2 separate regions of the Homo sapiens genome follow, and region 1 is linked to region 2. The links come from fine-mapping of genetic effects on gene expression. A gene starts in region 2. The other region holds a variant in brackets. All regions are shown on one strand. Distances are between the middles of the regions. Region 1 overlaps HSPH1 (heat shock protein family H (Hsp110) member 1). Region 2 holds the start of HSPH1 (heat shock protein family H (Hsp110) member 1).

Evidence for each region. PIP is the estimated chance that this variant, and not a neighbour inherited with it, causes the effect.
Region 1: its variant is the best candidate, but not a certain one, in a credible set for the expression of HSPH1 in thyroid (GTEx, PIP 0.67).

What each region holds. Positions count from the first base shown.
Region 1 is chr13:31,119,344-31,135,250 of GRCh38, forward strand. It overlaps HSPH1 (heat shock protein family H (Hsp110) member 1), which reads right to left. Exons shown (of 18, transcript NM_006644.4): 18 at 15,630-15,907. Among named protein-coding and RNA genes, the nearest start is that of HSPH1, 35 kb to the right of the region's middle. The variant G/A (reference allele first, on the strand shown) is at 7,443.
Region 2 is chr13:31,157,639-31,172,827 of GRCh38, forward strand. HSPH1 (heat shock protein family H (Hsp110) member 1) reads right to left here and starts at 4,266. Exons shown (of 18, transcript NM_006644.4): 1 at 3,838-4,266; 2 at 1,168-1,225. The coding sequence starts at 3,944. It overlaps LOC105370148 (a long non-coding RNA gene), which reads left to right and starts at 5,022. Exons shown (of 3, transcript XR_941825.3): 1 at 5,022-6,459; 2 at 7,516-7,604; 3 at 13,799-14,131. RefSeq lists enhancers at 3,360-3,905, 3,906-4,451, 4,063-4,142, 4,273-4,392, 4,623-4,892.

The DNA.
Region 1 (15,907 bases), 38 kb before region 2:
CACCCATTTAGGTAGGAAATCACTAAATTCCATTGTTAGTTCTCACAACGTCCCTGGAGATGTTCTATTTGTTATCTCCACTTTACAGATGAAGAAACTGAGGCTTAGGGAGGACTTGTAATTTGCCAAACTTAAAACACCAATATGTGGCAAGGCAGGAATAGGATCCCACTTCTCTTTCTGCCACCCCACCGTGATAAGGCCTTGGAGAAGGGCTATTATAGGAGCATACAACGGAAGGGGTGTTGCTTACAAATGCTCCGAACACTTTGAAGATATGGACAATCGGCACATTGCTGTGGAATCAAGCATGTCCTTGCAAACTGCAAGCCAAATGATGGTGCTGGTGTTAACGAACAGACTCGCAGAGGCTGGGTCAGCTTACACAGAAAGAAGGAGAGAGATGGCCGGAGTGAGGTGCTTCCCAGGCTGTGCAGGATGAAGTGAGGCATGGAGAGGCGACTGGAAATCATCTCCAGAGAGGTGGGGCCAGGATGACCCAAGGGGATGTGTGTGGAGAAAAGTGGGTGCAGCCACCTCGAGTGCTCAAAGAGAAGGAGGGACGGATTGAGCAGAGATTGTAGGTCAGGCGAGAGGAACCAGAGAACAGGCAGAAAACAGTGCCACAGAGACCAAATATGCTCCAGGAAAGGGTGGTTGATACCTGGTACCCTCGGTAGATCAAGAGCATTCAGATCTGGTCTCAAGGTTTTTGTTGAAAATTCTTCATGAATATTTTCAAGGAAAGGTTGTTCAACATTTCCCTGTGCGATATTTGGCGGCCACCACTCAGTGCCAGGCGCTGTGCAGTGATACAACCACGGATGGAAAGGAGTCTGTGTCCTGAAGGAGCTCACACATCCCTGGCTGTCCCCTGACAGGATCGGAATGCAAAGCATGGTGGGGGTGCTCACTTGGGAGGTCAGCAGGGTGCCTTCCCAGAGGGAGAGAACTTATGCTGAGACCTGAAAGATGAGTAGGATGTGGCCATCTGAAAGGAAGCCTTAAGAGAAGGAAGAGCTGCTACCATGCGGATGAACCTTGAGGACCTTATGCTAATGAAATGAGCCAGTCACAGAAAGACAAATACTGATTCCACTCGCAGGAGGCACCTGGTGTCTTCCAATTCATAGAGACAGAAAGTAGAATGGTGGTTGCCAGGGGCTGGGGAGAAGGAAATGGGGAATTGTTGTTTCATGGGTGTAGAGTTTCAGTTTTGCAAGATGAAAAGCACTCTGGAGATGGATGGTGGTGGTGGTTGCACAACAATGTGAATGTACTTAATGCTGTGGAATTGTGCACTTAACAGTGGTTAAGATGGTAAATTTATGTTATGTGTGTTTCACCACTTTTTTTTTTTTTTTTGAGACAGAGTCTTGCACTATCACCTGGGCTGGAGCACAGTATTGTGATCTTGGCTCACTGCAACTTCCACCTCCTGGGTTCAAGCAATTCTCCTGCCTCAGCCTTCTGAGTAGCTGGAATTATAGGCACCTGCCACCATGCCCAGCTAATTTTTTGTATTTTTAGTAGGGACAGGGTTTCACCATGTTGGCCAGGCTGGTCTGGAACTCTTGACCTTGTGATTTGCCCACCTTGGCCTCCCAAAGTGCTGGGATTACAGGCATGAACCACCACACCCAGCCATTTTTCCACAATCAAAGAGAGACAGAGAAGAGCCTGAGGCAAGGCCACTAGGCAAGAGAGAGGGGATGTTCTGGATCTGGAAATTTCTAGTAGTTCAATGTGGTTGGCACAGAGCTGGGGGTGGCAGCGGCAAGGACAAGATGATGAAGGGAAAGGGTTTGAGGAGTGGAAGCAGATGGCTTTCCGAGGGGTTTAGACACATCCAGGAGGTAGGAAAGAGTGGGCAACATAGGATCAAGTAGAAGGGATTGACGGAAATATGTTTTTGCTGATGGAAAATGTGCAATGACCATGCTCTACCTGGGGTCTTTGCTTTAAGCAGGGGAAGCAGGGGGCCCTCAGGTGCCCAAGGAATCTGCACCCTGTACTTACCTGGTTATTTCCCACCAGGCTGCTGCTGGGGCAGAGCAAGCCCTCCTGGAGAGCACCTGTGCCAGGGGTGGCCCAGCATTCACCAGACCTTCCAGGGCCACGAGGTCGCCTGCGTGTCAGGTCTCAGGGAGAAGCCAGATTTGTCTGTTACTGGCTCAGACTTGTTTAATTTAAATTTTCTTACACAGGAAGAAGAAGGAAGTGAAGCTGCCCAGAAGGAGTCCTGATCATAAAGCAATTTCCTTGTCTGAGTTCTAAAGAGACCCAGCTGCTATTTTCTTTTCTTGGCAAATTTTTCCCTGTGCAATCAAAAGGTCTGACTGAGATTAAGCTTTGCCAGACAGGAGCAAAGAAGAGCAAAACAAGGAATGATTTCAGCCACCGTGGGCTTCTTCCCAAAACAATTAGAGCTTGAATTTAAGTGAACAAATCAGATTTGAGGTTTTTCTTCCTTGGAGGCCGTTTCATTGAGCAAAGAGCACAGGGCTGATGAGCTGAGCCGATGGCTCCCCAAGCAGCTCTGCCACAGATCGAAATGCCACCTACAGCATCTGCCTATAGGTGGGCTGAGGACAGTGGGAGAGAACCATGAGGCTGTTGGTGAAAAACACTGGCAGATTTAAACATTAACTTTGTGCCAGGCAGGCCTTGCTTCAGAGCTTAGATGTATTTGCATTTATTCCTAATAACATCTTTGGGAATAGATACTGTTATCATCTCATTTTACCAACCAGGAAACTGAGGCTCCCAGAAGTTAAGTGACTCACCAATGGTTAACAATGAAATGACCCAGGAGAATCTAGAGCCCGCGCTCTTAACTACCAGACTCCAGAGTTGAAGGAAATCGGCTCTGGGAATAAAATTAGGAGGCCAGTTGCCCTCTTCTTCCCAAGGATGGCCCCAGAGCAGCCACTTTAAAGCTGTAAGTGAGCAACCTCAGAAAGAATAATAGTGTGGCTGCCAGTTCCCAAGCACACAGTGTGCTGATCTCTTCACCAACATTGTGGAATCCTCACCGCAGCCTAGAAAGGGAACATCCAGTTTTACAGATGAGAAAGCTGGTCCTCAGAGAGATGAAGGTTTTGCCCAAAGTCACACAAACAAAAAAATTCACAATCCAAACCTTTGTTTGTTCCCAAACATTGAGCTGTCAACCTCCACCTATAATTCAAAGCCATCACTTTGCAAATGGAGACCGCAAGGGGCAGAGAGCCCCTAACTGCAAAGCTAGGCAATCTCTTGGGCCCTCCTCCAGTCCAACACTTGCCAGTACCCGCTCCCCACTCTCAGGTCCACCCATGACCTGTACCCCTCCTGGAGCAGGGCAAGGGGACCCCTGTCCTGGCCATGCGCCTACCTAACCACACCTCCTTCTCCAGGTCGTGGAACCGGGAAATCCCATGCCCAGACCACCCCAAGTCCATGTTCAGAACCTGCACGGCCTCCTCCCACATCCATCAGTCCCAAGAAGGGCCACACAGTCCCAGGCCCAGAGAAGTGGTTAAGGGGCCAGGGTTTGTTGGGGTGCGGACTTATACTGGACATGTTAGCTGGGGTGGGGGTATTCATGCATATGCACATTAAAGCCTCCACAGTGCAGAAAGAAGCTGGGGTGGAGGGAGAAGGAGGAAAGTAAGAGGCTGAGAGCCAGGGGCTGGCTCTCCCTGCATTGCTGCAATTGCCATGGAACTATGAGGACCCCGAGAATTCGACATCCACACTGGCCATCTGGGGCCTCAGGGAGCTGACAGTGTAGGAAGACAGAACATTCAGCATCTGCTAAATGTTGACCTAAGAGTTTCTCAACTTTCTCCTAGGACCATGGGAAAAACCATCACCAGGGACGTGAAAACCTCATCAGGACGGTCTTTCCATCTCGTGCCCCTGTGTGGTGCTCTCTCATGCAACCTCTCTCTCTGTAGACCAGGTCTCCCCACACTTCAGGAAGCATGGCCACAGCAGCTGCCAGGTTTCACTGGCAGCTTTTGCTCCACAGAGAGACTGATTTTTGACTTCTCTTGGGTTCCAAGTCCCAAATTGAAGCTTGCTGGCATATCTCTGGTCAGTGCTCACTTTGACCCAGCCAACTGAGGGCTGTGGGCTGGTCCCTCAAAAAATGGTTGCCCGATGGAGCCCCAGGGATGAGGAAGCCCAGCCATTACTGGGAGAGGAGGAGGATTCTGGGGCACAGACAATATGTGCGTGTCTCATGCATCTCCTGAGGCTAGACAGTTGGTTGCCATTGCCACGAGACTATCAGACTATGCCTGTCTGCCTTCCTGCCTGACTTCTTTTTTCTCTCTCTCTTTTCCTCTCCCTCCTTTTCTTCCTTCCTTCCCTCCTTTCCTTCCTTCCTTCCTTACTTCCTTCCCTCCTCCCTTCTTTTCTTCCTCCTTCCCTTCTTTCCTCCTTTGCCTTCTCCCTTCCCTCCTACCTTCCTTTCTCCTTCCTGATCTGGATTTGAATTCTGAGTTTTCTCTTTCCCAAGCTCTAGAGGCATAGAGGAGACCAGGTCCCAGCTCTGCCATGCTTGCTGATGGGTCTGGGCATCTTTCTTTCTCCCCTGAGTCTTTATTTCCTCAGCTGTTAGTGGGGGGCATTTCAGCTCCTCCCCCAGTTTTTCCCCCTCTGTTGCTGAGCCTTTGAGCCTCCTAAACAATCAGTCTCAGTAGTCCAGACCCCTTTTTCCAAGCTGCTTTTTATAAACCTTTCAATGGTGGATTTCTCTCGCTGCTCAACGAAGTGTTCCTTTTTCATCCTTGATTTTGGACCGCAGCATTTCGAGTTCAATCTCGGGGTCATGGCCTGTCTACTCAGTACTATTTTAAGTTGAGAGATCTGCGTTGATGCTGTTTCTCTGAGAGCAATGTTCCCTCCATTAACTAATCCCTCGAGGAAATAATGCCATTATATGAAGCCAGCAGTGTTCAAAACAAAACCCACCTCTATAAATCATGCCAAGCAGGGTTCCAGATACCTCCAGGTGCAGCTTCCAATTGGTCTGACCTGGATGGGAGGAAATGGAACCGAGAAGTGACACATCTGACTTCTTCCTGACCCAGCTCCTCTTTCTGCCCCCTTCTCACTCCCTCCTGCCTCTGCAGCCAGCATCCTGCTTTCCCATCTCCCTCGCGTCCATCACAGCAGGGGCAGGGACAAGTGTAACGATTACTCTCGGTTCCCTGCATTAAAGTGGGGGCATGTCAGGCAGGGGAGTGGTTCCCTGAAGAAATGAGTTTGGGAAATGCTGGATTAAAGACAGTTCAATGGGTCTGTTAACCTCAGTACTTTTCTGAGCTCTTAATGTTTTCAAGTGCCTGGTAAATCCCCAGGAAAGGAACAGTTTCCCAAACTTACAAGGAGCCCCTTATTCAAGCTGTGTTTTGTGGGATGAGTGTTCCAAGCAATATCCTTTGAGAAATGCTGTCTGAACTGCAACTCATCTGCATTAAGGCACTCCTCCATTCAGCCTCTTATACATTGTTTTCTATCTAATCGTCAACTTATTTTGCTTTGACATTGCTGAAGAGCTTCCACATCTCATCTTTCAATTCTCCCTCCCAACAATCCTGTGAGACAAATGCTGTTCCTCAGAATTTGCAGATGAGAAACTGGAGCTCAAAGGAGTCTCCTTTTCCCAGTTCTCACCTCCAGGAAGCCCAGAACCTGGCTGAGCAAATGTGATGACTACTGGTGAACATATGAGGAAACTGAGGCACAGAGAGGTAAGCTGTTTCAGTTTGCTAGCAAGCCTGGGACCGATGTTTCTGGCTTCCTGGATCTGTCATCTTTCACTTTCCATAAAGAAAAGCATGAGGCTTGTCAGCCAGCAGGCAGGGAGGATGGGAATGGGATGTCGTCAGAAGAGGGGACCAGATGGGATTCAGCATGCTGATGGCTGGCATTGGAGCAGGGGTCCCAGGAGAGTCTGAATATGCCCTACCATTAACCCCTTCTCCTGGTGAGATCCCAGAGGAAGACATGCAACGAGGAACAATGGAAAATGGAGCCAAGGCACCATTTTATTGTGAGCTGGGACACCTGGTAGTCCCCTAAAGCTGGAGGTTATCTTGGGCTCAGAGCCTGGGCAGGGTCTTTCCCTCCTCTTCACCCAAATCTACAAGAGGCTGAAGACCCTGGTATGAGTGACCCCACCCACTGGTAAATGAAGTCTAGTCAGGATCCTGGTCTCTAATCAGTTGTACTCGAGGAATGGAGCTGCCTTCTCTCCTCCTGTCTAGGACAACTCAAAGTAGCACCACTTGTCCAACTCTCAAGCAAATGTTTGTTTGCTTTTCTAGGATGCTTTGGTAGAAGGTAGGGGACCATCAAGGAGGGACCATGCTCCTCACCCCCTACTAACAGCTGAGGAAATAAAGGGGAGAAAGAAAGATGTCCAGACCCATCAGCAAACATGGCAGAGCTGGGACCTGGTCTCCTCTACCCCTCTGGAGCTTGGGAAAGAGAAAACTCAGAATTCAAATCCAGGCAGGAGGGAGTGGGAAGGGGGCAGAAAGAGGAGCTGGGTCAGGAAAAAGTCAGATGTATCACTACTTGGCTCCAGTGCTCAGAGGAGCCTGGCTACAGCTCCTAGAAGCTTGGTCAGGTCCTTCTGTTATCAGCACAGGGGATAGGATCATTCTTCTCAACCCTGGAGGCCAGTCTGTCTCATCTTAACCGTGACTACTCCCCCTCGCTCAGACTCTCTTCCACCTCCTGTTCCTCATCCCACCCCCTCCTTTCAGGAGCTAAGGTTAAGTCTGGGCCTGCCTTCCCCTTGCCATCAGTCCCAAGATCCCAAAGACTCTATTTTGTGGCTTAGATGCTAGTCTGAAATAACTTGGCTGGTATGACATATTGTACCTTCCCCTGCCTCTCATCTTGAAGCACACCCTCCTGTCTCCCTTTTCATTTCTGCCCTTGGTGGAGATTCTCATGCAAAGGTGTCATTTTTGTGCACCTTTATTATCAACAGAGGTATGATTGAAGGCTTACAAATTTAATCGCTGGTTGGATGTTCCTGGACAATGACAAAGCAAGCACATCTTGTCCAGGAGATTCCTCTCTGGTGAAACATGGGAAAACTTTGCAAGAAAGATTTAGGCAATGTTTTTTCTCATCCATTTGGGAATTCCATAGCGTGCTGAGTAACGGCCACCCAAAGATCCAAGTTCTAGTCCCTGGAACCCATGAATATGACCTCATTTGGAAAGGGGTTTTGCAGCTGTGATTTAGGATTTGGGATGGGGAGATTACCCTGGATTTCCTGGGCGAGCCCTAAATGTCATAAGTGTCCTTACAAGAGAGAGGCAAAAGGACGTAAAAGAAATACATGTGGAAAAGTAATGGAAAGAAGAAATAAAGGGATGTGGCCACAAGCCATGCAATGCAGGGCAGCACCAGAAGCTAGAAGAGGCAAGGAC[G/A]GATTCTCCTCTAGACCCCTCGAAGGAGCACGGTCCTGCTGACACCTTGGCTTCAGACTTCTGGCCTCCAGAATTGAGAGAGAATAAATGTGGGTTGTTTCAAGCCACTCAGTCTGTGGTCATTAGTTATGGCAGCCCTAGAAAGATGACACTAAGACTTCTGGAATGGAGCACAGTTTTCTTTGGAATATGGAATCTGGCCAGTGCTTATCCATCAATTATTTCATTTGCTCATTTAGTTCACATTTCACTTATGTTTCAGGCTCTGTGCTAAGCTCTGGGGACACAAATAGGACTAAGAACCTATTCTTGTCTCCAGGAACACACAGTCTAGCAGCAGAGAGAGTTACAAACACATTATAAAGTAATGATTTAAATACAATAGGAGAGACACAAAGAGATCTCCATAGAGGGGTTGGGGACCAACTGGAACATTGTCAGGAGGTCTGGCCAGGGATTCCTAGGGAGGGAGAGGCCTGAGCAGCAGGAAGATGGACAGGTGAAGGCTGGTGGAGGGTGGGGTTGAGGGGTATGTGTGGTGCAGTGTGCCTGTGTGTGTGTGTGTGTGTGTGTGCATGCATATGCATGGGGTATGTGTGATGCAGTGTGTATGTGTTAGAGAGAGAGCATATGCACATGTATGTACACCTGAGGGTGGGAGGTTGGGTGGGTTTGAGCAGGGCTGCCATGGCCAGGGATATAGGATTTGGGGGTACATGGTGTCCCTTGGGAGTAACCCCTTCCTCCTTGAAGCCATGGTCCTGCCCCAACATCTCTACCACCTCTGAGGAAGGGCTAATCACCATTTTTAGGGACACTTTTCAACCAGTGCAGGACCTCCCCAACAACCACAGAGGATAGTTTCAGACTGAGGACTGCTCTTCCTTGGTTGCCAAAACTAGCTGTGATGCCCCCACCTCTCTTCCTAAAAGCAAGAGATTTATGAGCTTATGTAGGAAAGATGCACTATGTTAGAAATCTGAGCTCTGCACATGTCACTCCTGGGTAGGTCTCAATGACCTTAGAGCCCCTGGCCTGCAGACCTGCTTTCATGGGCCAGGGGGAGCCCCCAGACCAGTGTGTGCCCTCCAGTCCCCACCGCCATGAAACAAAGAGTCTGCCATGGATGGCAGTCTACATTGGGCCAACGTAGACTCCTATTTCCAAGCCTATTATCTCAAAAAGTCTTTGTGTCAGGCAATTTTTTAACTTCTGTGAGGAATGGTTTTATAGTTCATTATTGGCTAAAACTCTGAGGAGCATGGGAAGGGGGAGAGACTGAGTGAGTGGCTGCAGTTGATATCTCCAAGAGGTTCCTGATATGGTTTGGCTGTGTCTCCACCCAAATCTCATCTTGAATTGTAGCTCCCATAATTCCCGCATGTCATGGGAGGGAGCCAGTGGGAGATAATTGAATCATGGGGTCAGATCTTTCCCATGCTGTTCTCATGATAGTGAATACGTCTCATGAAATCTGATGGTTTTATAAATGGGAGTTCCCCTGCACAAGCTCTCTCTTGTCTTCCACCCTGTAAGACATGCCTCTGCTCCTCCTTTGCCTTCCACCATAATTGTGAGGGCTCCCCAGCCATGTGGAACTGTGAGTCCATTACACCTCTTTTTATTTATAAATTACCCAGTCTCGGGTATGTCTTTATTGGCAGCATAAGAACAGACTAATCCAGGTCCCAAGTAGGAAATGGGCAGAGGGGAATGGGCTAGCACTGGGTGAGGCCAGATGGACAGAAGGGAGAATCCAGGACACCCTGTGGGTTCTTTCCATTTCGATGGTGGCTGAAACAGGTGCCTCTGACTTCCAGACCCTGTTGATTCAGTGGGACCAAAGACAAGCATATGAAGACCATGATAAGTTGAACAAGGAGAGAACCATCTTCCTCTGACACCACAGCATTCATCACCCAAACTCCACCCCAGACTCTTGTGGAATGCATTTATTGTTCCAGTTTCCCACTCAATTTTCTAATTTTACACATGGGAGAGCATTCTCCAAATGCAATGTCCTTTGCTTCCTCACACTCATTCAGCTGCAACTGCTCTCAGAAAACGCCAGTTAACTCTGTGCTTCAGTCTAGTGCACATTCTGGTCTTCATCTCCTTTGGCCACTTTGTAGCACTCGTCCCTCTCCATCCCTTCCTCCTTTTTCTCCCTTGGCTTCTGTGACCTCTACCACCTGTTTCCTTCCAGCTCTCCCACCACTGTTTCCTCAGATGCCTTTCTTCTGCCCTGATTCTTAACATAGGCCTCCTGAGGGTTTCTGTTTTGAACCTCAATTCTTTGACAAATCCTGACTGAGCATCTACTAAATGCAAACCCTGTGCTAGGCACTTGGGCTATTAAAAAATGAATAGAACTGAGCCTCTTCCCTCTCACATGTGTAGATGAGGCTAAAAGCTCAGTAGAGGAGGGTGCGTATGACTCAGGTGCATGGGGGGCACACACAGGACAAAAATCCTTCACTTGGACTGCGTGCACAGCTGGCTTGTGTGTCTGCACCGAGAGCCCGGCTGTCCACTACGACTGCAGTCTGTATTTCAGCTCTGCTTTCTACCGAGTTCCACACCCGGGAGACTCTGCTCACTGGCTGGCTGTTGGCTCTGCACACACCTCAAATTCAACATGTGTCACGGTAAACCTGGCTCTCCCTCACCTTCTTCTCTGGCTCTCTCTCTGCGTGTTCTCCTTCAAGGAAGGGCACCGTTTTTCACCTTGAAAAGAGAGACTAAAGTCAGAGAGACCTGGGAGTCAGCCTGGACTCCCCACTCCCTCTCCCCGATTCAGAGCCACACAATAGCAGGGCAGGAGGCGCCATGCACAACACAGATGAGGACATCAGCGCCTGGGGGTTGGAGGATGAGCTTTCTGGGCAAACTGTGAGGGCCAAAGAGCCCTGCTCAGAGCAACGGCTTGGTGAATTGCTCAGGTTACTAGGCATGATTCCCAGTGGTGGGAAAGGAGTAACGAGTCCCTGCTTCCCTCCTTGGGAGCTGGGAGGTTCTCAGCATCTTGGGCCACCCTCACTTTGTGCAACCTCAGGGTCTGCTGCTTACACATGAGGTCCTAATGCCTATGGACTCAGCACTGAAGAAACATTTCCTGGCCAGTCTCCTCTGTGCCATGTTGGGAGAATGCACATGCCCTGGGATGCAGGGGAGAACGGGAAAAACTAGGTTACGTGCCGGGCAGATGTGCAGCTGGGTCTGCCCAGCATCCTCCATTCTCCTGGAAGCAGCATCCCACTTGCTTTGATAAATATTCTTCCCTCTACCTACTCATGGTTAGAATGGCAGCAGTCATGTTCTTGCAGAGCTCACTCTGGGCACAGTTTCGTCCCTGGGAGGGATGGAAATTTCCCCCTGGGACTTCTTGCCCCTGGGAGGTGTGTTAGTGGTGTCTGCTGGGGACTGCTGTTGCAGCTATGCTTCCCAACCTCCCCTAGAAGCAAGTTATCAGCAAGGATAGTGGAGAGGATTCCCAGTGTTCCAAAAGCCCGGCTGCCCTGAGTTATGCACAGACTGGTTAGTCAATGCTTGCTTTCACTACCTGCCATCCTTCTGCTTATAAATCCCCTTTGAACCAAAGTACTTTTAGGTGGGTTTGTGACATTTTACAACTGAATGGCCTAACTGGTACAGTGAAGGTGATGCCCCTTCTCCGAGGCCCAGGGCTAACACCTGTAGGGAGGAATTCCAGATGGGCAGGCAGGCACTCATGAGGAGTGTGACCAGAACACACCAGCTGTGTGTGGAAAATACATCAACCCACCTGTGTGCAGAACACACAGTATATGTGCCATAAACACATGAAAGCCATAGCAACTGTAGAGTCAATATCTGCTATTCTAGATTTTATTCTTGTGGCTGTGAAGCAGTGGGAACTGTTTATTCCTGGACTTGTATCACCCAATCATGGAGGAACAGTTATGACTCTGATCACTAGAACACTCCAGTAGTTTGTTAAGGTTAGGTCAACAAATACATTCAATATAATTTATGGCAACCTTTTGGTTGATGGGCCACATTTAATAATGCTTTTTGACATAAGTGGATACAAGTAATGCCTAAAAACAACTATCAAAGAAGCATTGTCTAATTCCTCTAACAAAGTAATCCTTTGGATAACATGCTTATGTATAGTAGCTATAAAATCTCCAAAATTCTCAAACAAAATTTACATCATTTTAAAAGTGTTGAGCTGATCATCGTTACCAAATAAAGTATATAATCTTTGTATCCTGGATCCAAAAATACAGTTGTAAAGGACATTTTTGATGGACAACTGGACCTGGAAATACTATTGTGTCAATGAGATTTCTTGGGTTTGATGATGGCCTGTGGTTCAGGAGAAGGTCCCTGTCTCAAGAAGGCACATGGTGAGAAGTGTCACAGTAACTGGTCACATGTTCACTGTGCTATTCTTTCAACTTTTCTAAATCATGGGAGCATTTTTTTTAAATGCTAGTCTGGTATTTGTCATTGTTAGAAGGGAAAGGGGTATTATTAAAAGACTTGAGAGATTTTATTAGGAAACCAAACAGCTTACACACCCTGGCAATAGTTTACATCTCTGGGACTGGGAAAATATTGTCCTCTGCTTATGGACTGTAAAGTCACAATTCTCCAGAGACACTTTTGGCACCCTTCGGCTTTTGAACGCCCCCAAACACTCAGACATGGGCAGTCAAGAGGAGCCACAGGCACCTCAGCAATCATAAAGACTCTTGGGTTCCTGCTAAACGCACAGCAGCCTCCTGGTTCACCAAGCAGGAAGAAAGCCATGCTCTGACTCCCTGGCAATGTCTACTTAAAAAGCCACACTTTCACAGAAACCACGAAGGGGGTAAATAAAACATCAGTGTGTTTGTGTGCAACGGTGGCAATGAGAAGTAAAAAGTGAACGCTGATATCGGAGAAGAAAGCTAACACTGAAGAGGTAGACGAGGGAGCACCTCCCCAGCCAACATAACTTGTAGAACTTCCTGGGTGTCCACCCTGTGCCAAGATCACTCAACACATCATGTGCACAAATTCCTTTAATCTTCAACAACCACCTTGTGGAGGCAGAAACTGAGTTTACAGAGGAAACCAGCTGGAGAGGTTAATGCCAAGGCCATATGGATTGTGAAAAGTGCAACCAGAATGTAAACCCAAGTGTTTGACTTAAAAGCCAAACAACCACTTACACTTTCCAGTACTCCTTCCCTGCTCAGCTGGGCCAGTACTGAGTGCAAGAAGGGGTTGTTTCCCAATTCTCCATGCTTTTCTGTATTTTATTAATAATAAGAGCCAGAAGCAAAAAGGAACACATTGATAGGAAACCCCTGGGATTGTGTATGTGTCCACGCGGGGGACGATGTACGTGTCTGTGCAGAGGATGTTGGGGGGTGAGGGGTGGTGGTGATGCAGGGAAGCAGCCCCTGAAAGCACCAGTCCAACAGTGAACTACAGCAAGATACTCAGCTGCCTTCATTCACTCGGCTACAGAGAGGCTTATTCTCAGTGGGACTCAAAGCTTCAGTGATTAATGCAGAAGTCAGTTAAACATGTACAAAACCTATAGAAAGGTGCAGAAAGCCATTTTGCATCAATCCCAAAATTCCTCCTGTGAGAAGCGGGAGAGGTATAGGGAAGTTGGGTATATGTAAGTGATACTTGAACATCTATAGCCAATGTGAAAAGGATAATTACAGAAAAAATGTAAATGGATGAGTCTATCATCCGTTTATCTACAGAATAGATCATCAGTGCTTTGAAAAGGAAACTTCAAATTCTTAGCACTGAGACATCAGTTATCAAACAGGACACCCCACATACAGTCAACAGCCCTGTGGTTGTCATTGGACTCACCTGGGAAGCTTTTAAAATCCTGATGCCCAGGTCCCATCCCAGACCAATTACATCAATCTCTGAGAGTATGTGTCAGTATTTTGTACAATTAGCCCCTGAGAAATTCTAATATGCAACCAGGGTTAAAAGTCAGTTTCTAGTCCAATGCTCAATGAAAAGGTATGCTTTGTTGTTTGTTTCTTTTTTTAATGAACAATTGCAATTGTCTAAGCCAGTATCTCTCAAACATTTTGGGACACGATCTTCAGTAAGCCTGGACCTAATTTATGCCAAACAGATAAAAGCATCAAGAAACAATCCTTGGCTGGGCGTGGTGGCTTATGCCTGTAATCCCAGCACTTTGGGAGTCCAAGGCGGGCGGATCACTTGAGGTCAGGAGTTTGAGACCAGCCTGGCCTCATACGTCTTTTAGTAGACACATGGTGAAACTCTGTCTCTACTAAAAATACATAAATTAGCCAGACGTGCTGGTGCATGCCTGTGATCCCAGCTACTCAGGAGGCTGGGGCAGAATCGCTTGAACCTGGGAGGCGGAGACTGCAGTGAGACGAGATCGTGCTATTGCACTCCAGCCCAGGCGACAAGAGCAAGACTCCGTCTCAAAAAAACAGAAAACAAAAACACCAATCCTCACCTTAACTCCTTATGATGCATTGATATTTTGTTTCATTAAATTTTTTCTTTTTTTAAAAAAAAATACTGGTCTCGATCGGCTTTACAAAACACTGGACTAAGAATCTGCATTTTGTAAAGAAAAGCTTCAGTGTTTCATATAAACATGGGTTTAGAAAACCGGATACAGCCTGGTGAAAAAACAGCAAATCTTAACATGGTTGGATTTTATGGCTAATTTCAGGGAAGAGATTTTGAGTCCTCCCACGGAGTTTTCAATGACGATACAAGTGCATTTTCACAGTGCTAGTCAACTTTCATCCCTGGCTATGTGCATGCCGACTTTGATCGCTCCGCCACCGGAGAGAACATGGGCCTTACAGTTAGATCTAAGTTCTAATTAACATATATTTTAGCTTGGTCAGAGCGTCACCCCATTTTCCCACCTGTAAAATGGGGGAAACAATGCAACAATGCCTTTCTGAGAAGATCGTTGTGAAGCCTGAGTGAAGACACCTGGCACAGTGCCGGATTGCTTAAAGATACTCAGAAAGGGCCATTTTACTTCCTTCTCTTTGAGTGTTATTTTGAAGTTCAAAGTCACTTTCCCTGTAACTGAAGGACAAGGGACATTGTTGGTTGTCACAACTGGGGTAGAGAGGTGCTACTGACATTTGATGGGTAGAAGCTAGGGATGCTGTTAAACATCCTACAAGGCACAGGACAGCCCCCACAATTGATTAGCCGGCCCCAAATGTTAATATGCCAAAGTTGAGAAACCCAGCACTAGAGGAATCCACCATGGCAGAGACTGGCCCTGTCAAGGTTATATAGATTTGGATGAGGAAATGGGGATTCACAGAAATTGGGTTAATTACCTAAAAACCATAGCACTTAAGGGGCCAGCATGAACTCTTGAACATGAAACAAAATCTTTTCCAACCCCAAAAGATCTTTCCACTATACCATACTGCCTGCCACCTGCCCTGAAGCAGTATAAGAACTGTCAACAGGCCCATGCTATGCAGTTCTAAGAAAACTAAACCACAAGTGACTGAAAAGCTGTTATCCTAGAGCTTTCAAGTATGCTCCCGTTCTTATTTCCAAATCACATGCTAATATGAACTAAAAGACAACTAGTTTCGACTAGTTGTCTTTTAGGAAGTCTCTAAGGCTAACAAACTAGACCAATACAAGAAAACCATAGCACACATGCCAGAGCAAATAGGGGAACACTTCTCATCATTCTGCCCACTTAGAAGAGCTTAACCGTACCAAAATTACTCAGTACTTGGAGAAAGTCAACCTCTCTCCAAATATTTGTATAGACTCCATCTTCCCAGAAAAGCTGATGTCATTGTTTTGTGCTATGAAAACTATGATAGATGGCAAGAGATATTACTCCACAACAATCAAAACACCACAGGCAAAATAGAAGTCTGGATATAAATTGACAAGTGGTAATGTAGAAAAAAAGTATCTTGAATGCTGCTTACAAACGCAAGTCATTAATCACAGTAGCTAAAGATTTTAGCCCTTCAGAAACTAACTTCCAATAGGCTATTTTGTAGAGGCAGGTTACACTAGTCAAATTAATTGCACTATTTCTTTTGATAAATAATCAAGCAAACATTGGGATTTTACTCAAGAAAAGTAAGTTAATCATTGCTCAGACATAATATTCATGACAAAGTAGACTCAAAATTCAACTGTTATTAAAAATGGACGTTGTTTAGAAATATTGTCACAAAATGACAATTTAAAATGAATTGTAAAATTTAATCTTTAAACAGCATTTATTCAAACTGGTGCATATCTTTGAGATCCTCGATGATTACTAGGTATATATCACAACTGTTTGAGCCAATGATATTAATACGTTATTATAAAGTAATCAACATGACAATACTTTTGCCCGCATCCAAAAGCGCAGTACACTGATTTAGGCCAGACTGACTGATGCTCCCTCCCGTCATCAGGTTCTATTT
Region 2 (15,189 bases):
TATTTTCTGTATTTAGAAAAATGTTTTTTATTTCAAAGAGCCTCTCAAAGAGCATTTCACGTATCTTTTACTGTTTTTCTCTCCACCTCCAAGGGGTCTGTCTAGATCAGTGCTGTTCAACAGAATTATATGTAAGTCATAAAGGAGAGCTACCTACATAAAATTTTGTAGCAGCCACGTTAAAAACTGGTAAGAGATTAGATTAATTTCAATTAACTTAGGCCAATATATTTTAGGAACTATCACTTCAATAAGTAGTCAACAGAAAAAAATTGATCAGATACCGTACTTTACTTTTCAATTCGATTAAAAAGTAAAAAATCTCATGTGTATTTTATACTTCACATTTTGATTCAGACGAGCCACATTTCAAATGCTCAATACAGTACATGGCTACCATATTTTTTAAACAGCACAGGTCTGGACAAAAATTTCTCCCAGTCCTACCTTAATTACTAAGTAACCTGAAAATGCTTTTAAACACATAATTTCTTAGAAGTTCCTTCTATAAAAGGAATCTCTTAAATGAGTATCACGAGAAACTTCACAAGAACTTAAAATGCCTTGTTTATAATTTCTAAAAATTAGATAAATGAAAGGCAGCAAAAAGTTACTAAAAGTTAAAGTCAGCAGGCCAGGCGTAGGCTCACACCTGTAATCCCAGCACTTTGGGAGGCTGAGACAGATGGATCACGAGCTCAGGAGTTCGAGATCAGTCTGACCAACATGGTGAAACCCCATCTCCACTAAAAATACAAAAACTAGCTGGGCGTGGTGACACGCGCCTGTAATCCCACCTACTCAGGAGGCTGAGGCAGGAGAATCGCTTTAACCCGGGAGGCGGAGGTTGCAGTGAGCCGAGATCGCGCCACTGCACTCTAGCCTGGGTAACAGAGCGAGACTCTATCTCAAAAAAAAAAAAAAAAAAAAAAAAAGTTAAGGATGGCAGATTAGAAAGTTAAAGTCGATCTTAATAAAACAAGGGAAAGGGAACAGAAAGGAAAGAGTGTCATCATCTGAAGGTTCATAAAGAATACTTGAATTACATTTTTAAAACTCAAAAATACATAAACTTAGGCACACTTTACCCTCTTATATGTCTCTTGAGATTTTCCTTTTAAAAACTCCCCCCTTAAAAAGTGATCCGAATTCTCTTAAAGAACATACCTGATTTTTGGCTGCAACTCCGATTGTTCTATTTTTTGATCCAAATGATATGACTGACCTAGAAAAAAATATATTCCAAAAAATTAAAAAGCATAAAGGTTGATATTTTAAACTGATAAGAGAAAAATACTAACATAAATGTCCTACCCATTAGGGGATAGGGAACAAGCATAGCACAATTTTAAGGTCTATAGCTTTCATCAGATACTCAAAGGGGGCTTCCACTTAATTGCTGCTCTGAGATCCAACCTAGGTGGCAGTTCTACTACCCCAAAAACCTCTGCTCGTGGCTCAGGAATTCTCCAGGTTCCAGTTATTATGAACCGAACATTAACTTTGAAAATGTTTTAAATATGTTAACGGTATTATTAATTTGACCCTACACACGACTAACAAAAAATAGGATGTGACTCTACCTTTCAGTCACCAACTCTGTACAAATCTAAATGTCATTGTCATACCGACTTTTGTTCTGATATACCACCGGCTTCTTTAGGAATCAAAAGTTTTTATGCAAACGCAAGCAAATGAACCCAAGTTACACCTCTGAAGTTTAAAGAGCACAAAGAGGTTCCCATCTGGGAGATTCTGCCGGAGAAAGAAAAAAATGATGCACAACAAGTACCATGGCAAAACAGAATATAAATGTCGAGGGAAAGGAGTGACTAATCAGTTACATCAAATCTGTTTTGAAGAGATGGAAAGTGACTTACAACTGTGAAACAACCTTCTCAGCCACCATGGAAATGGAACCGCACAATAACAGAGCAGAGACTAGCTTAAAAAGTCTTGTGAGAAGAAGGTAAGTGAATTAGGTTTTGGATTAGAGGAGTTATCTAATTCTGGATTACTAATTCAAATATAATCTAATTTTGGGTGAGTTACTCCTACCTGCTTAGGTATGAGTAATGGTAAACGAGATGAGCAAAACGGGAAAATACTGAGGGCATTAAGTACCACCCTTAAGTTTAAATTTGCTATAATAGAAACATCCTCAAACTATATTATCTGAGCAAGTGTTAAATAAAATAGCATCCTAAAAGCCAGAGAAGTGTCCAAGCAGAAGCTAGACAAGAAACCGTCAAAATCAGAGCATCACTGTAAGCTCTGAATAACCATACACTTGCAGAATGGATCTACTCATTTTCCTAGGGGAGAATCAAATTAATTGTACTAAATAACAATTAGTAGCTGATACAATAGAATCCACCACAATTATAGTTTAACAAACATATTAAGGGGAACTCCAATACTGCCCTCAGTTCACATTTTTCAGGGCCATACCTGTTGTCTTTGATTTCACACAGTAGTCCCTGTATAACACAATTTTTTTTCCCACTCTCTTCTCTGAAAAGCTTTTCTTTGTTTTATTGGATCAACCAGAACAAAGTATAAACTGTATCTAGGCATGAAAGCCTGAAATACTGTTTTCTTTCTTACTAAACTCCAATTAAAAAAACCTTAACCAAAACACAAACTTAGATCTGCAGGGGTAGACGTACAGGTTGCTCAGAACAGTCTTCCTAACGTTACTAACATTGCCAAATATTTTGCCTCAGATTTTCCACTCAACTTTCATAAACGTTCTCAGCACCCAAATAATTGTATTACCCCAGTCATTCATTCTACCTTTAGGTTCAATGTTTTCATTTTGCACTTTTCATCCTGAGCTTGGGACATTTGAAAAAAATTAATAGGTACAGTATTTTCCTTGAGATGAAATCATTTGTTTTCATCAATGCACATGCAGATATGTTTGTATATATTCTCGTCCGAAAATATCCCTTCACGAAACTTGCTTTTTAAAATGTTGCCCTTTGCCCACCCTATGCTCCTATAGAATATTTAGTTCAGTGACGACATCCATCCTCTTTTGGCGTCCTAGCACAAAAGTATGCAATTTTTATTCTCTTTTAAATAAACTGTGCAAAATTAATTTTAAAAATACGGTTTACAATTCCTCATGAATGGCAAAGAGCAAAAAAAAAGACGTTTACATCTTTCGACAATGATCCCGGGCATTAAGGCCAACAATGTTAGCAACGAAGAGACTGGGTAAAAAGAGGTGGGCTAATCTTTCATAGGACTGCTTCCGTGGTCGCTAACAACAATCCGCCTGCTCACTGGACAAGCAGCGACACAAGCTCTGGAAGCTTCCAGTTCATTTCGAGATTCACAATGCGGAAGAAAAAGGCCGGCAGCCCCGCTCCGCGGTGCGCAAAGATATGCGCGAAGGGAGGAGGACAAGCTGGAGGCGGCTCAGCCAGCTCAGAGAGGCCGGGTGGGGATACGGGGGCGGCCGCGGAAGGCGCAGGCTGCAGCCTGCCAAGAAAAGGGAGCGAAGTTGCGGGCTTTGCCGCAGCCCGACCCCCAGTAGGTTTTGAAAACCCCCAATAGGAAGCCCGCACAAGGTGACGACCCTTAGAGTCTCGACTCTGGGACTCCTCTCACCCCCGTGAATCCCTGAGACAATCCCTTCTCCAATTTGTGATGGCAAGCCCCCCATCCCTCCTCTGGCCGGGTCGCTGGTCCCTAGTTCCACGGAGGGGTGCGCCGCTGCCCAAACGCCTCCGTTTGCCGCGGTGATCCGTACAGCCAGCCCGCGATCTTGGGTCCCCACACTAAGGGCCCAGAACCTCCTCCCATCCACCCTCGCAGACTCCCACTTACGGGGTGCACCGGTCGCTGAACTCATTGGCGATGGTCTCGATGCCCCCGGCCCGGGCTACCGCGATGTAGCAGCTCTGCGAGCCCACGTCCAACCCCACCACCGACATGGCCGGCTCGCGGTCCGCCTCCGCCTCGGGTCTCGGTCTGCGTCCTCCGGCCCCCTGCCTGCTTCTCCTGCCGCCGCTTTCTGCCCTGGCCGCGTTCTGCTCCGGCCCGCGGGGTCTGGCCGTTCCTCTGACACTCAGAAGGACACACAGACAGCCGCGGCCTGTCAGGAGCCTCCTACTCCCCCGGGGACAGCGGCGGCTGGCTGATAAGAAACCCTGGGAGAAAGCGGGGCTCAGCCTCCGCAGGTCGCTCCGCACCTCGGGTTGCCTGCCTCACTCTGCCGCGGCTCGCACACCGGCGCCGGCGCTGAACTACCGACCCAAAAGGGGAGGTCCCACTTCCTCAGCCTTATGTATCGCACTGATCAGAACTTTCCAGAATCTGCGGCATTTACTCACCGGCGCCTCCACCGGCCCCTCCACGTGCCACTTCCGCTTCCTTCTTCTCGAGCCTTCTGGAAAGATTCTACCCAATGGGCAGCCGGTCCCCGGAGAACGGCCGCCGTTGCCATGGCAGCGACAGGGCCGCTCCCGTGCCATTGGCTCAAACCTGCCTCCGCCCACTCCCGCCCTAGCCACAGGCGTTTTGCTGCCCTAATAAAACAGGCAACGAAGAATGACTCCAAAACTCGGAATAGTCACAATTTACTACCGGGAGGTGGTGTCCGATCCTTAACGCTAAAGGGAGGCTGGGCGGGCGGAGACAGACCCCATTTTTGCAGAGACCCCAGACACCGGGATGGTGGGGAGGCCGGCCAGCTGTCCGGAGAGCATGTTGGGAATCGTAGTCCCGCTGGGAGAAGTGTGCGCCTTGCATGCTGGGATGTGTAGTCCTGGCCGCAGTGCTTGCTGGGACCCGGCTTTGTCTTCTGGGACTCGCGAGAGAGGCTGGGTAGGGTTTTGTCTGGCGCTTTTGCGCGGGTTCCCTGGCAATAAGCGTCATTTTGTTCGTTTGTTTTGTATTCACTTCTATTATTGTCTGGATTACCCCGACAACTGGTGCGTTACGACTTAGGAGAAGGAACACCAGTTCAAACCGCTTATAATAAAAGCAAAGGGGTTGTGTTAAGTGTTCTTGTATTCATCAGGCAGCAGGATGATCTCTTGTGGAGTAAAATGTCAGGTGTTTTTTTTTTTAAGAAATCGATTTTTAGTTGTGACGTCATTTGGCAGGCTGTCCACGGTATCACTTTCTGCTTATTTTTAAAAGGTCTGATTTAAGCCGACGCTGTTCTACCCTGCCACTCCTAGCCATAAATTGGTACTGTGTGTAAGTTTTGCTTTTTGTTTGATCTGAAGCAGCTTTTGTTTCTTTCCCTCAGAAGCGATGTCCCCGTTAACTTTTGTTCAGTAAAGAGACAGTGTAAGAAAAGGTGGAACTGTGTTGCTGATAACTTATCAGGTCTTTTATACCCTTTTGTGTCTTTTTAAGTTTGCTTCTGATCCCTGAGTTTACCTTATGTCAGGCATGTGGAAGTATAAGCACAGTTCAAATATGTTATTGGATAAGCGTGTAATTGAATAAGGAGTTGTAACCTAAAGTTAGAAAAATCTAACTCATAAAGAGTATGGGAATTCCTCCTTGTCTATCAAAACAAGTTGGTTAAGTCAGAGGCAAGACGAAAGGCCCAGGTTTACATTACATGTAAATTGTATGTGCTTTTGCTAGTTTTCCTGCCACTTAGGTGGCTTACTTAACATGCTTCAGTTAACTCACCTTTAAAATGGGAGCAATAATAGTTATCACGGGGTTGTTGTGTTCTTACATTTGGACATATAGTTAGCTGTAACTATAAGTTATTTTTGTTATGCATCCCAAAAACTTGGTTTCTGTCCCCACCCCCCGCCCACCAACTTTTTCTTACATATCAAAACCTTATAATAAAATCCATGGAGACATAGCAATTTTGAACAGAAAGAACCTTTGAGATTATTTGGTCTGCTTCCCACATTTTAACTGCCGTACGAAGAGGAGACATGAACAGTTCTCAGTCTTTGGAGCCAGACAGATTTGGGTCAGGTTCAAATCCTTGGCACTCTACTAAGATGTTTTATATAAAGTACAGCTTGTAAGGGCACCAGGCCTCCTGGAGTCAGACATCATGGGCTTGAATCCTAGCTATTCTTATTTGTGAGCTGTGTGATGTTGCGATAATTACTAAGCCTTTCTGTATTCCATCTCATGGTGTTTATGTAATGATGGAAACTATATGTAAAGCACTAAACATATATAAACATAAACATATAAAGTCTGTCATCTTTGTCAAATTCCTCTTTGCCCTCTGTTTCCTCGACTGTAAAATGGAAGTAATACCTATTTTTGCTAGGATTTTGGAAGGATTAGATATAAATAAAACATGGTATGGTGGTATTTGATAAATTGTAGTAATAGAAGTAATATCATTCAGTGAAAGTCAGTACAAACTTTAATCTTGTACTGCTGTGGATGTGTTGTGTAGTCATGGTGTAGCCCCCTTTTATTTAATCGATTTGCCTTAATTATTCAGCACAACAGGTAAGTGATAAGAGGTTGTAAAATCTACCATATTTATTATCTAATTGAAATTCTTAGCTGGGCCAGGCATGGCGGCTCACATCTGTAATCCCAGCACTTTGGGAGGCCAAGGCAGGAGGATCACCTGAGCCCAGGAGTTTGAGGCTGCAGTGAACTATGATCACTCCACTGCACTGCAGCCTGGGCAACAGAACAAGAGTCTGTCTCTAAAAATAAAAAAATAATTCCTAGCTAGGTGCAGTGGCTCATGCCTCTAGTACCAGCTACATGGGAGGCTGAGGCATGTGGGTTGCTTCAGCCCAGGAGTTGAAGTCCTGCCCAGGCAATATAGCAAGACTATTAAAAAAATTCACTTTTAACACTTTATTATATTTTATTACTTTATATGTTTATATATTTTATTACATGTAGAATTTATCACACTTACTGTTGTAATGTCAGAAATTTTAAAATGAGACTTGGACCAAATAATGACAATCCCTACAAATCCTTGTTATGTAATTATGAATCCAATTATTAGGTTTCATTCCATATTTGTTTTAGAGAATAAGAAGGACCTCAAAATTGGAAGCAGAAACAGACCACTTCCAAAGAACAATAAAACAAAAATGCAAAATTAAGAAAAGCCCAAACAAAAATGCCATTCAAAGAGATAATATGCAGTAGATATAAAAAACTATGCCAGGCTTCCTTGAAAGGAGGAAGAGATGGGCAAAGGAGGGGATATGCAGATAGAGTAATATACATGAAAGTGCATATGACTTTGAATTTCTGGTATCAACCAGTATGGCAGTCTTCTCTATAACCAGCATAATGCCAGGGTCTGGAGGGTTACAGAAGTAGTATAAAACTTGTTCTAAATCAAGATGTGTTTTGTCACTTCTCTGCAATGCTGGGGCATCATGAATACTCAATTATCTGAAATCTTGTCCGTTTGAACCTTTTTCAATATTTGCTTACCAAAAGATTTTTGTTTTCTTCTTATATATTAACCTGAAAATGTATCTTTTAAACCTTAATTGGTTCTGCTAAAACCTATTTTGTCCTTATTTTAAGTTATAATAGAATGATCATCTAAAAATAGGAATGCATGGGGAAATCACGCAGGGAGCAGAGACTTATAAAAAGGTACACCTAGAAATAAGGTAAGTATGTTTTGTCTGGTAGGACATGGAAAAGATATGTAAAATGATGTTTCTTTTAGCCTAAAAAGGATCATATTTTGTAATAAATGTGGCAGACAAAAACTCAATGTGTAGGAAAATGTTCATGTCTGCCCCCAAACTCACTGTGAGCCACTTTGCCACTGGAACACCGTGCTCAGGCACACTGGCCCCCTACCCCACATCAAGGTGTTCCTTTATTCCCCTGCCTAGAAAATTCTTCCTCAGGCTCCTGGCTAGGCCAGTTCCTCATCCTTCAAGGCTCTATTGAATTCTTCACCATCTGTAGAGAAGGTTTCTGAATGCCCACCCAGTAAGCACATTACCCTTCCCCAAAGTACACCCAGTTCTTGTCCAGTTAAGGAGAAGCTGGTGCCAGCCCGAATGCGGAGGGTGGTCACTGTTTGGCTTAGGCCAATCAGCACATCCTATTCCCCTTGGCCACAGTCGTTGGTTCCAGGATGGTCAGGTGACCTAGGCAGCCCAATCAGGGTGACTTTCAGGGCTATGGTTTAGAATGCCTGGGTATGAGGGTATTTCTCTGCCCCTTTCCATCCCTTTCCTTCCACTCCCTCCATCTTCTTCTTCCTCCAGGCGCTGTTGTGTGAGGTTATGAGGCCCAGAACCATTACAACAACCTTACTATCATCCTGAAAAGGAAATGACACATGGAAGTGGATAGAACTAAGAAAATTAAGTTGGAGCCTAGGGCTGAAGTCAGTCTTGAGACCCACCCTACCTCTAGATTTAAGTTATGCCAGCCATACATTTCCTCACCACTTAAGCCAACTTGAATTGGGGTTTCTGTTACTTGCTACCCAAAGCAAGTAACCTCCTCAGGAAGGTCTTTCATGACCATATTACCTAAAGCACCTCCTGGTTCACTCTCTGTTGTTATCCACTGATTTCCTTCACAACATGTACCACACTCTATACTACAACATATAGCTGCAGTGATCTTGGGGTGTGTGTGTGTGTGTGTGTGTGTGTGTGTGTTAGGTACTTCCCTTCTTTGATTGTCTGACCCAGAGGGCAGTGATTGTTTTTCTTCTTTATAGTGCATTATAGATGCTCAATCAATATTTGTTGAATAGTTGAATGAAAAAACAAACTTATTGGGAAATGCTTTTCTCTAATGCAGAGTTTCTCAGCCTTGGCACTGTTGACATTTTGGGCTGGATAGTCATCGTGTGGGCTGTCCTGCACCCTGAATAATTAACTGCATCCATGGCCACATCCTACTAGTTGCCAGCAGCAGTGTCCTGCTCTTCCTCCCGCACCCCCCACACCCCCACCACCTCACCCCTGGCCCAATTGCAACAACCGAAAATGTCTCCAGACATTGCCGAATGTCACCAATGGACAAAGTTGTCCCTGGTTAAGAGCAGTAGCTTTGATTTAAGCCTAATACAAAAAGGGCAGAGTCTCAGAATGTGTTTGAAAGAAAATAGAGCACTGTTTGATTTCTGAGCCACAGAGGCTAAGAGATGGGAGAACGGTAACCCAGATCTGAATGAGTCAGACAACTCCAACCTGTATTAGGTTACAAGAGGAGGGACACATCTCTCATTTGGCTACGAGACATGCCTGCTGTTGTACAAATGTGCACTGCCTATTCCAAGAAGGTAATATTGAACTGTGGTTGAAAGTATTTTTGTGATTATCAATTACTTCCTTCAGAAAGGTACATACAATTCACTGTTTTCCTTTGCCTTGGGTTTTTTTGTTTTTTTTTTCTGAGACAGAGGCTTGTTCTGTCACCCAGGCTGGAGTGCAGTGGTGCAATCTCAGCTCACTGGAATGTCCGCCTCCTGGGTTCAAGCGATTCTCCTGCCTCAGCCTCCTGAATAACTGGGATTACAGGCGCCTGCCACCGCACCTGGCTAATTTTTGTATTTTTAGTAGAAACAGGGGTTTCACCATCTTGACCAGGTTGGTCTTGAACGCCTGACCTCGTGATCCACCTGCCTCGGCCTCCCAAAGTGGTGGGATTACAGGTGTGAGCCACAGTGCCCAGCCACCTTGGCTTCTTTACTTATGAAATAATAATTAGAATGCCCACATAGTGACTGAAAATTATTAATTAATTCTTACATTCATGGTTACCTTAGTCATTCTATCATAGAAAGGAGAAAGAAAGTTAATATTTGGATAACCAGAATCATTGTTGCCCTACATAATATTCTGATTTTCCACCCTGAAAACTAAATTTATATACCAGAAATAGATTCCTCTTTTCTTCTTTCTTTTGTTTCTTCAGGCATGTGTGAAAAGAAGGAAAGGAAGGAAGAGTTAGTATCCTGTGTCTCTTCTATTCCAAATTATGATGAGGTCAGTTCAAAGTCCTTGTACATAAAGATGAGTCATTTCAGTACAGACTCTTTAGGTTTGCTGTGTTGAAAAAAAGCACCTTCATTTTGGTGGGAAAATAACTACAAATTGTTGGTGTATTTTTCTGTGTGTCAGAGGATTCTGAAACCAGGATGTGTCTGAGCTCTTGAGACATATTACAGATGCCCTCATGGGGTAGCTCATTAAGCTGTTGGAACCAAGGGTGCATTCAGTTCCCCTAAACTAATTAATAATCCACTAGGGAGGGTGGGAGTGGTAGAATAAAAAACATTTTGGGTACCTGTTTTTATTGAGCAAGTCATACTGTTCTTACCTCATTTGTGCCAAGTGAAATGAAATTCCTCCTTCCGGACACTTCGGAAGAACTCACTATCTGATTGCAAAGTTACATCTTGGCAAGGATGTATATAACCACTTGTCTAATGGTGGATGACTAGAATAATGTGGAAAGGAGAGACACAACTCAAAGCCATACAAATTACGGTTGCTTTATTTAATTCCTTGGCATCAATGGGAAAACAGCAAAAAGGGAATTTCTTGCCTATTCTGAAGGATGAGGCACTCAAATTATTCTACATGCCTTTCAGCTGCTTTCCACACCAGCAAACATGAGGTTAAAATATATTGAGAGGAAGGAATAAAGCATTGGAGAAGATGAGACTTCCTAGAAAAAAATTCAGTTACTCTTAGAAAGCTAATATTGCTGGCCAACAACACTGAAACCAGCTTTTTAAATTCTGAAATGTAAATTAGACCCAAAGAGTCTGTACTGAAATGACTCATCTTTATGTACAAGGACTTTGAATCGACCTCATCATAATTTGGAATAGAAAAGATACAGGATACTAACTATTCCTTCCTTTCTTTCTTTCTTTTCACATGTGCCTGAAGAAACGGTTACAATTCTGTTTTTCCTGAGGAAGTGTGTAATTTGTTACTTTCATTAAAGAAGCCCATTCTCCATAAATACGTTAGTCCACCTTATTTCCTGCTTACAAAGGCTCTCTTAGCCTTTCACCATTTAACAACTCTTTTTATATTTTGACAATATAAATGTTTTCCCCTTTGTCTCTGAAAAGAGGGAACAGGGTCAGCCCAAGACAAAAAGGCAGGAGAGTGTCTTGAGCTCCTTGTCCCTGCCATGTCTCCAGCCTCTGTCTCTCCCAGGCCCAGGCAGATAACCCGCCGGCTGGTGCCTCCCAACTCCCAAAGCTCCTTTCGCCTGGGTTCTGGTGTGCCATCCATGCTTACGCATCTCTCTGTGCCCAGTGCCCTGCACTAAGCCAGGTGTGTAGCCGGCCCTCACGCTGTTAGCTGCTGTTAAATGCCAGCACTCCGCCCCACCCAACTCTGTTGTGGCTCCTCCGACTGCCAGCACGGCTACGTCATCAAACAGGTGCTCCCAATCATTCCCGGTCATATGAAAAAACCAAGTCACATAGATTTAAGTTTCCACTCCCAGAATGGAGATATTTTTATTAAATAAGTTCCACTTAAATAAAACCAGTTTCCCTAGTTGGTTATATTAAAGGCTGCATAGGAAGATATCCAAGGGGCAGTCTAGGCATGGTGGCTCATACCTGTAATCCCAGCACTTTGGGAGGCCGAGGCAGACAGATCATGAGGTCAAGAGATCAAGACCATTCTGTCCAACACGGTGAAACCCCGTCTCTACTAAAAATACAAAAATTAGCTGGGCGTGGTGGCACACACCTGTAATCCCAGCTACTCAGGAGGCTGAGGCAGGAGAATCGCTTGAATCCGAAAGGCGGAGGTTGCAGTGAGCCGAGATTGTGCCACTGCACTCCAGCCTGGCAACAGAGCAAGACTCTGTCTCAAAAAAAAAAAAAAAGAAAAAAGAAGATAGCCAAGGGGCATATGGCTCTGTAGGACTCTGCCTTATATTACCGTGGTCAGACTGGCTGGGTGCATAAGAATCTTTGTGGCTCCCTCCCAACAGCTCCCCACTGCCCCCTCGACCCCGCAACTCCATTCCTCTTGAGAAGAAAGGGGAGTACTGCTCCGCGCTCCCTGCTCTGCTCAGCTGCCTCTGATTTCTGTCTGAGTTGTTCAAACTTTAGGGCTTGTTTATTGATTCCCCCAAGGGCTGTGAGCTCCCGAAGACTGTCCTTTCTCTTTTTATTTATAGGCCTTTGTTGAATGAATCAAAAATTGCTCCTTTCCTTTTCCTTCGTTTCTTCCTGCCTTCCTCCCTTTCTCTCTTCATCATTTATTAATCATTCACTGTTGGTCATGTCTCCTAAATGCCCCAGAATGAAAATCCCTGACCTACCTCTGCCAAGGTTTTTTTTTGTTTTTTGTTTTTTGTTTTTTTGTTTGTTTTTTTGTTTTGTTTTGTTTTGTTTTTTAAGATGGAGTCTCATTCTGTCGCCCAGTGGCACAATCTCGGCTCACTGCAACCTCCACCTCCCAGGTTCAAGCGATTCTCCTGCCTCAGCCTCCCAAGTAACTGGGACTATAGGCACGCGCCACCACGCCTGGCTAATTTTTTGTATTTTTAGTAGAGATGGGGTTTCACCATGTTAGCCAGGATGGTCTTGATCTCCTGACCTTGTCATCTGCCTGCCTCAGCCTCCCAAAGTGCTGGATTTCTAGGCGTGAGCCACCATGCCCAGCCCTCTGCCAAGGTTCTTAAGCCATACATGCATGTTCTCTTCCTATCTGATTTCTTTTTGGTCTGCCATGGCTAAGAGGCCTAACCAGCAAGAGGGAGCCAGGCCTTCTTACATCATCAGCTGCAAGAAAGTGAAAAAAGTGTCCTTCCCTGTTTGCTAGAACAAACAACAAACCATTCCTCCTTTTCCCCCACCTGGGACCTGCACTGGCCTTTCCAATGGGGAGGGCAACTCATTAGGAGGAGGAAATCCACTCTAGACTATCGCCTTTGGTGGCAGAGATGAATAACAAAGGTTTTTCTTCTCCTCTGGAGTAATGGAAGCTCGACCCTTACTACTGTGACCTATGGCATGTCCTTGAGGATCACATCTGTCTTTGAATAGACCCAGAACTCTTCCCTGGGGGCAGAGTACCATTGTCTGTTGTTGTGTGTAAGGAGATGTGAGGGTGCTTGGCAGGGATGGTGAGTGGGGACTATAACATTGAGGAATCCTGGGCTGTTCCCAAAGTGAGGCAGGAGAATAGAGTCTGCAGGCAGGGAACCTAAGGCCGATTTAGGCTGACTTCCTAGAACTAAATCAAAAGGAAAACCCCAACTTTGCAAACCCTCCCTCCTTTTCCTGCATAGCAGACAGAAAATTGAAAGTACCTCTGACTGGTTGCTTTCCACAACCAATCAGATGTTTGCATACGAATGTAACTTTGTAACTTTGCTTCAGCCTCTTGATTGCGGACCACTACTTCATTTGCATGGGGTGTAAACCAAGTGGCCAATGGGAAACCTCTAGAGTGTATTTAAACTCCAGAAAATTCTGGAACTGGGGCCTTGATCCCCTATGCTAAGACCCATTCCCACCATGTGGAGTGTACTTTTATTTTCAATAGATCTCTTGTTTTGGTGCTTCATTCTTTCCTTGTTTTGTTTGTGCATTTTGTCCAATTCTTTGTTCAAGATGTCAAAAACCTAGACACTCTCCACCAGTAACAAAAGGAGGAATCCAAGGACCTTATTGGCTTTTTGGAATAGCAGTAGGTCTCCATGATATTAATTAGGATAAAATAAAACCAACATGGCCAAACCTTTATGGTTTTAAATGTCCTTATAGATTACATAATGAAAATACCTATTAGCCTTTGACTTGAAATGTTTTATTCTAGCAAGTCACCTTCGCACTTTCCTCATATAGAGTGATCTGGATGAACTCCTACAATGTGGCAGCCGTTTGCTTTGTGCTGGAGATACCATGACGAACAGCCCACGTTCCTGCCTTCAGGAAACTGAAAGAGAACCAACTCTCAGAACTGCAGCAAGGTTAAGGGCCTTGGCAGCTGTACTGTGCATTTGGTATTATAGTAATAGTCACAAGACAACCCTCTAGACTGTGTGTGGAGTCAGGCAGAGCTGGGTATAAATCCTGGCATCTGCAACCTTTCTCGGGCAAACTGCCTAACTCTTCTAAAATCTTACCAGTAAGATGTGGGTAAGAAATTCTACCTTGGCCAGGTGCGGTGGCTCACGCCTGTAATCCCAGCACTTTGGGAGGCCGAGGCAGGTGGATCACCTGAGGTCAGGAGTTCAACACCAGCCTGGCCAACATGGCGAAACCCTGTCTCTACTAAAAATACAAAAATTAGCTGGGGGTGGTGGCGGGCGCCTGTAATCCCAGCTACTGGGGAGGCTGAGGCAGGAGAATCGCTTGAACCCAGGAGGTGGAGGTTGCAGTGAGCCGAGATCGCGCCACTGTACTCCAGCCTGGGCAACAAGAGTGAGACTCCATCTCGAAAAAAGAAAAAAAAAAAATCCTACCTCATTGTGGTATTGTGGGGACCAATTAATAAAGTAATATCACCTAAGCCAGATGTCTTCCATTAAAAGGGCACACAATAGCTGACAGCTATGGTTGTTATTGCTTTGATTACTAATGCTTGGTTACCTAAGACACTTCCGAGTCACTTCACTCCCTTCATAACCCTCTCCCAGGATTATGAAAGAGAACAGCAAAACTGTTTCCTTATCTTCATCTTTCATATTGTGCTGTTCATATTGCGTGACTGCCTAGATAATTGATAGTCCACAAATTTCAAAAAAACTACATATATCTGTGTGAATATCTTTGCAGATAATTCTAAATCAGAGAATCAGATTTTAGAGGGGAGGTCAAAATACCTCCATTCCATTGTGAAAAATTCATAAGAATATTCTGAATACCACAGATTTAAAATCTATCACTGTCCTAGAAAGGTTAACTTTCTTTTCTTTACCTTTATTTCTATGACATTGTTCTTTTGGCCCTGTCTCCAGTGTTATTTTATAACACGTTATATTTCTGCTTAGTGGATTGCTATAGTGATGTTGGTACATGTTCTAAAGGGATATATAGTATCATGCCCTAAATGGACTAGTCCACGCACCTTTGTTCAGCACTGGAAATTTCCCAAGTCTATTCATTCATCCATTCATGCAACAAATATTTCTGGAATTCCTCCCATGGAAAGCCATCATGTGAAAGTGTTACAGTTGATTCAAGGGTCATTGTCAACAATGAAAAATGTTTGCCTGCCTGCTGGGGCAAGAGAC